Homo sapiens: one gene and its partner. The protein of the gene in region 2 interacts with the protein of the main gene of each other region in a pairwise test. Each region holds a gene or a part of one and is shown on either strand. Other genes may lie near its edges.

Evidence for each region.
Region 1: the proteins of UBE2R2 (region 2) and RNF113B interact in a two-hybrid assay, tested with the Homo sapiens proteins (one large-scale study listed by BioGRID and IntAct).

Annotation. Positions count from the first base shown.
Region 1 is NC_000013.11:98,175,215-98,179,019, forward strand, and holds RNF113B (RING finger protein 113B), read right to left. Parts: upstream 2,056-3,805; 5' UTR 2,023-2,055; coding exon 1,068-2,022; intron 963-1,067; coding exon 949-962; 3' UTR 571-948; downstream 1-570.
Region 2 is NC_000009.12:33,897,016-33,900,835, forward strand, and holds part of UBE2R2 (ubiquitin-conjugating enzyme E2 R2), read left to right. Parts: intron 1-3,158; coding exon 3,159-3,256; intron 3,257-3,820. UniProt on the Homo sapiens protein: E2 ubiquitin-conjugating enzyme that accepts ubiquitin from an E1 ubiquitin-activating protein, and catalyzes its covalent attachment to other proteins by an E3 ubiquitin-protein ligase complex.

The DNA of each region.
Region 1 (3,805 bases), on a different chromosome or scaffold from region 2:
TTACATAATCTGTGTCAGTTCCTTGTAAGGAACTCATCAGCTGTGAGGAACTCAGCGTGGATCTGTTGGTGTTTGTCTTGGGAGAGGAATACATTGCCATTTTAAGGGAGAGGATGTTAACATCAGCCAAACAAAATCAAATCCAAACTTCAGCGTGGATATTCTTCTGTCAACTCCTCCCCTCCTTGGTTCTTAACTGATATCCTTTATTTGCTGTTTTGGTAACTCTTGAACCCCATCCTCTCCACTCCCTCCCGGTCTTGGTTCCATCATTTCTTCCTTTTCTGATATCTCTTTTTAGCTTTTTTGAAAAAAAAAATTAATTATAGTACAAAACATAAAATGTACCCTTAACCATTTTTAAGTGTTCACTCATATTAGGTATATATATATTGATGTGTAACAGAGCTTTATAACTTTTTCATTTAGCAAAACTCAAGCTCTGTACCCATTAAACAACAGCTCCCCACTCCCGCTCTTCCTAACCCCTGACAACCACCATTCGACTTTTTATGTAATTTTGACAACTCTAGATACCTTATATTAGTGAAAAATCATACAGCGTATTGGTCATTTTGTGACTAGTTTATTTCACTTAGCAGTGTCGTCTTCAAGGTTCATTCTAGTTGTAGCATGTGATCCTTAAAAGGATCAGTTTAAATCTTTAAAAGGATTTCCTTCCCGTTAAGGCTTAATAGCATTCCATTGTGTGTGTGTATCGCATTTTGTTTGTCCATTCATCCATCCATGGACACTTGGGTTGTTTACACCTCTTGGCTTTTGCAAATAATTCTGCAGTGAACATGGGAGTGCACATACCTCTTTGAGATCCGGATTTCAATTCTTTTGGTTACATACTCAGGCATGGGATTGCAGGAAGACTGTCATCTCTCTCATCTTACTCAACAGGCTGCTTCTCCCCAGTGTACATACAGACTTGAGTCTTTCTTATCTCTTTTTTCCTAAAAGAACAAAAAAATTTATTTAAATGTGAGAATTATGGGAAACCTAAGCCATGGGAATTGGACACTCATGGGGGTCTTCTGTGAAATGGGACTTGCCCCCACCTTCTGCAGCCTGAAGCTTTTGCAGTTTCGCCATCAGTTCTTTGGCGGGGTTAAAGATGCCGCCGGTTGGCTGGTCACAGATGTAGCAGCGCGGGGTGGCCCGGAAGTGCTCCAGCGCGCAGCTCTCGCAGAAATAATGCCTGCACTTGGTGACGACTGGGTTTTGGAAGGCCTGGCGACATATGAAACACCTGAATGGTATTTCCTCTTCCTCGCTTCCCACTTCATGGTTTTCGTCCTCGCAGATACAGTAGCGACCCTCTTCAAGCTCCCGTTCAATCTCCCACCCGAGCTTGTAATCGGAACGGTCGTGGAGGAATTTGCAGCTGTCCCCGAAGCCACAGAAGCCAGTCTCCTTGTAGTCCTTGCAGATGTCAGGCTGGTAATCCCAGCGCACAGTGGCGCGCAGATGCCCTGGCGCACGTATGGGGCCCTTCCTCGCCATCCCCGAGGAGGAGTTGCCCATGGACGTGTCCTTGGGCTTCAGGTACCTCAGGTAGCTGTGGATTCCCCGGTAGATGTGGTCGTGCTCCCGACCCCGCAGTGCCTCCTGGACCCGCTGGCTGCACTTGAGGATGGTCGGCGTATGGTGCTCCTTCTCGGTGTCCTGCTCGAAGTCAGCGGTGGCCCCCATGTCCTCTGGCCCCACAGGCTTCGCCGAGCGGGTGGACCTGTACACCACGTCGAGGCTCTCAGGCGCCGCCTCCTCGCCCCTCCTGTCGCCGTGAGCCGCCTTCTGCCAGCTGTGGAGGCCCCGGGGCCTCGGTGCCACCCGCGGGGGCTGAGCCACTGTGTCGCCCTCGTCCCCGCTGCTGCTGCTCTCTCCGTGCTCGGGGTCGCAGGCCGGGCGCTTTCTGAGGCCTGCAGCCCCTTTCCGTCCAGGCTTTTTGAAGAGGAAGGTGCATACCTGGTCTGCTTGGTCGGCCGTCCTTCCTGGAGAAGGTGGCGCTGCCATGTTTGAGTCTCAGGCTCCCAACGGCCGTGGCGTGCGTCACCCTTGCGTCGCCCTTGCGTCGCTGCACGTGGGGCGTGGGCCCTCCCAGTTCTAAAAAGCAAAAGCAAGTGAAAGAAAAGCTTCTGCTAGGCCAGGCGCGGTGACTCACTCTTGTAATCCCGGGACACTGGGAGGCCGAGGTGGGAGAATCACCCGAGGTCAGCAGTTTAAGACCAGCCTGGCCAACATAGCGAAACTCCATCCTTACTAAAAATACAAAAATTACCTGGGTGTGGTGGCGTGCGCCTGAAGTCCCAGCTACTAGGGAGGCTGAGGCAGAAGAATCGCTTGAACCCAGGAGGCAGAGGTTGTAGTGAGCCGAGATCACGCCACTGTACTCTAGCCTGGGTGACAGAGCGAGACCCTGTCTCAAATTAAAAAAAAAAAAACCAAAAAAAAAGGCTTCTCCCGCCCTTCCCTCCCTTGACCTGCCTCCTGGCCCTCAGATGGATTCCTTGAGAGAGTCATCTTCACTTGCTCCTCAGCTCCCTCAGTGCACACTCATTTTTCAACAGATTCCTAAAAGGCCACGGGTGGAATCATTCCAGGCCATAGCGAACCGGTGGTGCTCATCCTAAAACACAGGCGCTTGAAATGCGTATTTAAAAGCAACACACGCGCAGTGCAGAAAACAAAAACAGATACAAGCAAAAAGTAAGACGCCTATAATCCCTCCCCTCAAAGATAACCACTGTCAACACTTTTGTGTCTATTCTTTTAATATAGCCTTTATTAAAAGACTGTCATATCACACTGCACCTGTGGGTGTGTAGCTGGCTTTCATTTTGAAATAAAAGTAACACATGTAAACATTTAAAAAAATATTATCAAGCACTTATTGTAATGGAAATTGGCTGTCCCCTGCCTGGCCCCTCCACACGCCAATTCCTGGTACCTAAGATAATCATTTTTAATTTTTTTTTTTTTTTTTTTTTTTTGAGAAAGAGTCTCGCTCTGTCGCCCAGGCTGGAGTGCAGTTACATGATCCCGGCTCACTGCAACCTCTGCCTCCCGGGTTCAAGCAATTCTCCTGCCTCAGCCTCCTGAGTAGCTGGGATTACAGGTGTGTGCCACCACACCCAGCTAACTTCTGTGTTTTTAGTAGCGACAGGGTTTCACCATGTTGGCCAGGCTGGTGTGGAACTCCTGACCTCAGGTGATCCACCCACCTTGGCCTCCTAAAATGTTGGTATTACAGGCGTGAGCCACTGCACCCCGCCTTCAAATATTTTTAACCCTTTTTTTTCTTGAGTTTATCTTCAAGTTGTGAAATAATTCATTTATATAATGTAAATGGATTCTAGTTCTTATTTAGCCAGTGCATGTCATAAAGTGTTACATGCAATTTCTTTTTCTAATTTAGGTTCTATCTCTTTACTTACTAGAATGGAAGATGAGATTCAGCTCACTTGTAGTGCCCCCAAAACACTGGCTGCTGTGGGATGAGGGAGAAGTTGTGTGGGTCTCTCTTCCTAGACACCAAGGCATCCTCAGCTGTTGGAAATGTGATGAATAAGCTTACAGTGTAAAGAACAATTCATCATTTGTCAGTTTTCTCTTAGGATAGTAATTCTAGATTTTTCTTCAACTGTTATCATCCCATCTTTCATGTTGGAAGCTTTTCTAAAATACTTGGTTATCTCCAGCTGTTTATACTTCAGAGTGAGGTGCCTAAAAGCTGGCTGGAATCCATCGGTATTGTTGGGCTTGTACACTGGACTGTCCTTTGTGTGATTCAGTTGGA
Region 2 (3,820 bases):
GTGGCCTAATTTTTTTTTTTTTTTTTTTTTTTTTTTTTTGAGACGGAGTCTCGCTCTGTTGCCCAGGCTGGAGTGCAGTGGCGCGATCTCAGCTCACTGCAAGCTCCGCCTCCTGGGTTCACGCCATTCTCTTGCCTCAGCCTCCTGAGTAGCTGGGACTACAGGCGTCTGCCACCACGCCCGGCTAATTTTTTGTATTTTTAGTAGAGACGGGGTTTCACCATGTTAGCCAGGATGGTCTCAATCTCCTGACCTCGTGATCCGCTGGCCTCGGCCTCCCAAAGTGCTGGGATTCAGAAAAACTCTTTTTTTTTTTTGGAGACAAGAGTTTCGCTTTTGTTGCCCAGGCTGGAGTACAATGGTGTGATCTCGGCTCACCGCAACCTCCGCCTCCCGGGTTCAAGTGATTCTCCTGTCTCAGCCTCCCGAGTAGCTGGGATTACAGGTGCGTGCCACCACGCCCGGCTAATTTTTGTATTTTTAGTAGAGATGGGGTTTCATCATATTGGTCAGGCTGGTCTCGAACTCCTGACCTCAAGTGATCTGCCTGCCTCGGCCTCCCAAAGTGCTGGGATTACAGGCGTGAGCCACTGCACCTGGCCAGAAAAACTCATTTCTACATTTCCCATAGGTTGTTTAAATTGTTATTATTAAAGGAAAGCTCATCTCAAAGCTTCCTCAACAACAAAGCCTTTTATCTTCCACCCCACCTCCCACGCATTCACTGCCCAAATATACCAAGTTTCTCTTTTCTTTTTTCTTTTTTTTTTTTTTTTTGAGATGGAGTTTTGGTCTTGTTGCCCAAGCTGGAGTGCAATGGCACAATCTCGGTTCACCACAACCTCCACCTCCCAGGTTCAAGTGATTCTCCTGCCTCAGCCTCTCGAGTAGCTAGGATTACAGGCATGCACCACCACGCCTGGCTAATTTTGTATTTTTAGTAGAGATGGGTTTTCTCCATGTTAGTCAGGCTGGTCTCGAACTCCTGACCTCAGGTGATCTGCCCGCCTTGGCTTCCCAAAGTGCTGAGGTTACAGGCGTGAGCCACCACGCCCGGCTCTCTTCTTTTTGTTTTTTGTTTTTGTTTTGAGATGGAGTCTCGCTCTGCCGCCCAGGCTGGAGTGCAGTGGCGTGATCTCAGCTCACTGTAACCTCTGCCTCCCGGGTTCAAGGGATTCTCCTGCCTCAGCCTCCTGAGTAGCTGCGATTACAGGTGCCACCACGCCCAGTTAATTTTTGTATTTTTAGTAGAGATGGGGTTTCATCATACTGGCCAGGCTGGTCTTAAACTCTTGACCTTGTGCTCTGCCTGCCTCAGCCTCCCAAAGTGCTGGGATTACAGATGTGAGCCACCATGCCTGGCCTCTCTCTTCTTTTATCTGTAGTAACTTTTTACATGCCTTATGGTATCTAACCATAAGGCAGTGTGTTAGAATATAATATTTTGTATTAATTTTATTTTAAAAATATTTTATATTGATAATGGTTACATATATATTCATATAGTTTCTATGTGTCTAAATTTGGGTTGTATATGTAAGATTTTTGCACTTTATATAGTTATACCTCCAGTTTTTTAAAAATATAAATCTTAAGTCGTGTGTGGTAGCACACCCTAGAGTCCCAGCTATGGGACTACTGAGGTGTGAGGATCACTTGAGGCCAGGAGTTAGTGGCTGCAGTGCACCATGGTTGTCTTATGCATAATCACTGCACTACAGCCTAGGTAACATAGTGAGACTCCCATCTCTAAAGACAGAAAGAAGTTAAATAAATAAATAAATCTTACCTTCCATGTTAGGCTAAGTCCAAGAGATAAGTCACTGTATTTTACCTAACTTTATCTTTTCTATTGAATTGTGTTCTGTATTGCACATGGTGGGCAATCCATATGTGTATGAATTAACCTAAATGTACTTGTGGATTAAGTTGTGTTAAGTTTATGAAGCAAAATATAATAGCCATAGTGGGAAGTCATTCTAACCATACCTTGAGGATGTTAACATTTGCTGCGAGGCATATTTTTGGTTTATATAAGTCATGGTTATTGACATAGCATCTATCTGAGTAGATATTAAGCAAGGTTAGATATTTTTTCTTCCTTTTTATGTACTCTAGGTACACAGATATATCTGAAAACAAAGGGATATATATTTGGCTGCTTCTAAGACAATTGAGTCTTGATTTATTATGTTTGTCTTTTTTTTTTTAAGATGGAGTCTCATTGTGTTGCCCAGGCCGGAGCACTATCTTGGCTCACTGCAACCTCCGCCTCCCGGGTTCAAGCGATTCTCCTGCCTCAGCCTCCTGAGTAGCTGGGATTACAGGCGCGTGCCACCACGCCCGGCTAATTTTTGTCTTTTGTTTTTGTTTTTTTGAGACGGAGTCTCCCTCTGTTGCCCAGGATGGAGTGCATTGGCGCGATCTTGGCTCCCTGCAACCCCCACCTCCCAGGTTCAAGCGATTCTCCTGCCCCAGCCTCCTGAGTAGCTGGGATTACAGGGGAGTGCTACCACGCCCGGCTAATTTTTGTATTTTTAGTAGAGACGGGGTTTCACCATGTTGTTCAGGCTGGTCTCGAACTCCTGACCTTGTGATCTGCCCACCTTGGTCTCCCAAAGTGCTGGGATTACAGGCGTGAGCCACCGCGCCCAGCCAATTTTTGTATTTTTGGTAGAGATGGGGTTTCGCCATGCTGGTCTCAAACTCCTGACCTCAGGTGGTCCACCCGCCTTGGCCTCCCAAGTGCTAGGATTACAGGCGTGAGACACCGCGCCCAGCCCCAGTCAATTTTTTATCAGGATTGTACTATAGGAATAGTAAGTCTTCTCACTAGAAAATATACCTTGGAGATTGGTCGAAATAAATATTATATTTTAATGTTCCTAAGTAAACATAGGGATCGTTTGTTTCATCAGGATTGTTCTATAGGAATAGTAAGTCTTCTCACTAGAAAATATACCTTGGAGATTGGTCAAAATAAATACTTTTAAAATGCTTAATTATTATTTATCTTTGATGTTGAACATAAAAAGCAGAATTGTTTTCTCCTTTGATGAAGAAACAGTTTCTAGGAATAAAGGAAACTTTAGAACCGATGTCCCTTTTTGTACATCACTTTTTGAGTATTTACTGAATGTAATGTTTGTGTCTTGTAGAATGGAGATGTATGCATTTCGATTCTTCATCCGCCTGTAGATGACCCACAGAGTGGAGAACTGCCTTCTGAAAGGTGGAATCCTACTCAGAATGTGAGGTAAGGAGGAATCTGGTTTTGGAGTTATTCTTAATCTCCTTATTGTCTTTGCTCCTAGTAAAATAAAATTATGTATTGTCTTTTAACATGTAAAAAATCATCTTTCTTATATTCAGTTTCTTTGTCTTTAGCTAGAGCTTTAAGAAATATGTATGCGTCATTTTGAAGAGCTGTATTTACTAAACAATAATGTATATGATTCTCATTTCCCTATGTTCACTTAGGAATAGATTTTCAAGCCTGAATCCCTACTCTTAACTTATCCTAGTTCTACTCTGGTTCTTTATTACCACCTAACATTAGTGTCATTCATTGGTTGCAGTTAATAAACAATGTTAATTCATTATAAGTAACTGAAGTCCATACGCTTTCACATTTCCTTTGTTTTTACCTGTCGTTGTTTTGCTCCAAAATATTTCATACATATAAATATATATCTATATATGTACGTGTATACATATATGTATTTAAATTTTTTGTAGAGATGGGGTCTCACTAAGTTGCCCAGCTGGTCTCAAACTCCTGGCCTCAAGCAGTCCTCCCCACTTGGCCTCCCAAAGCGCT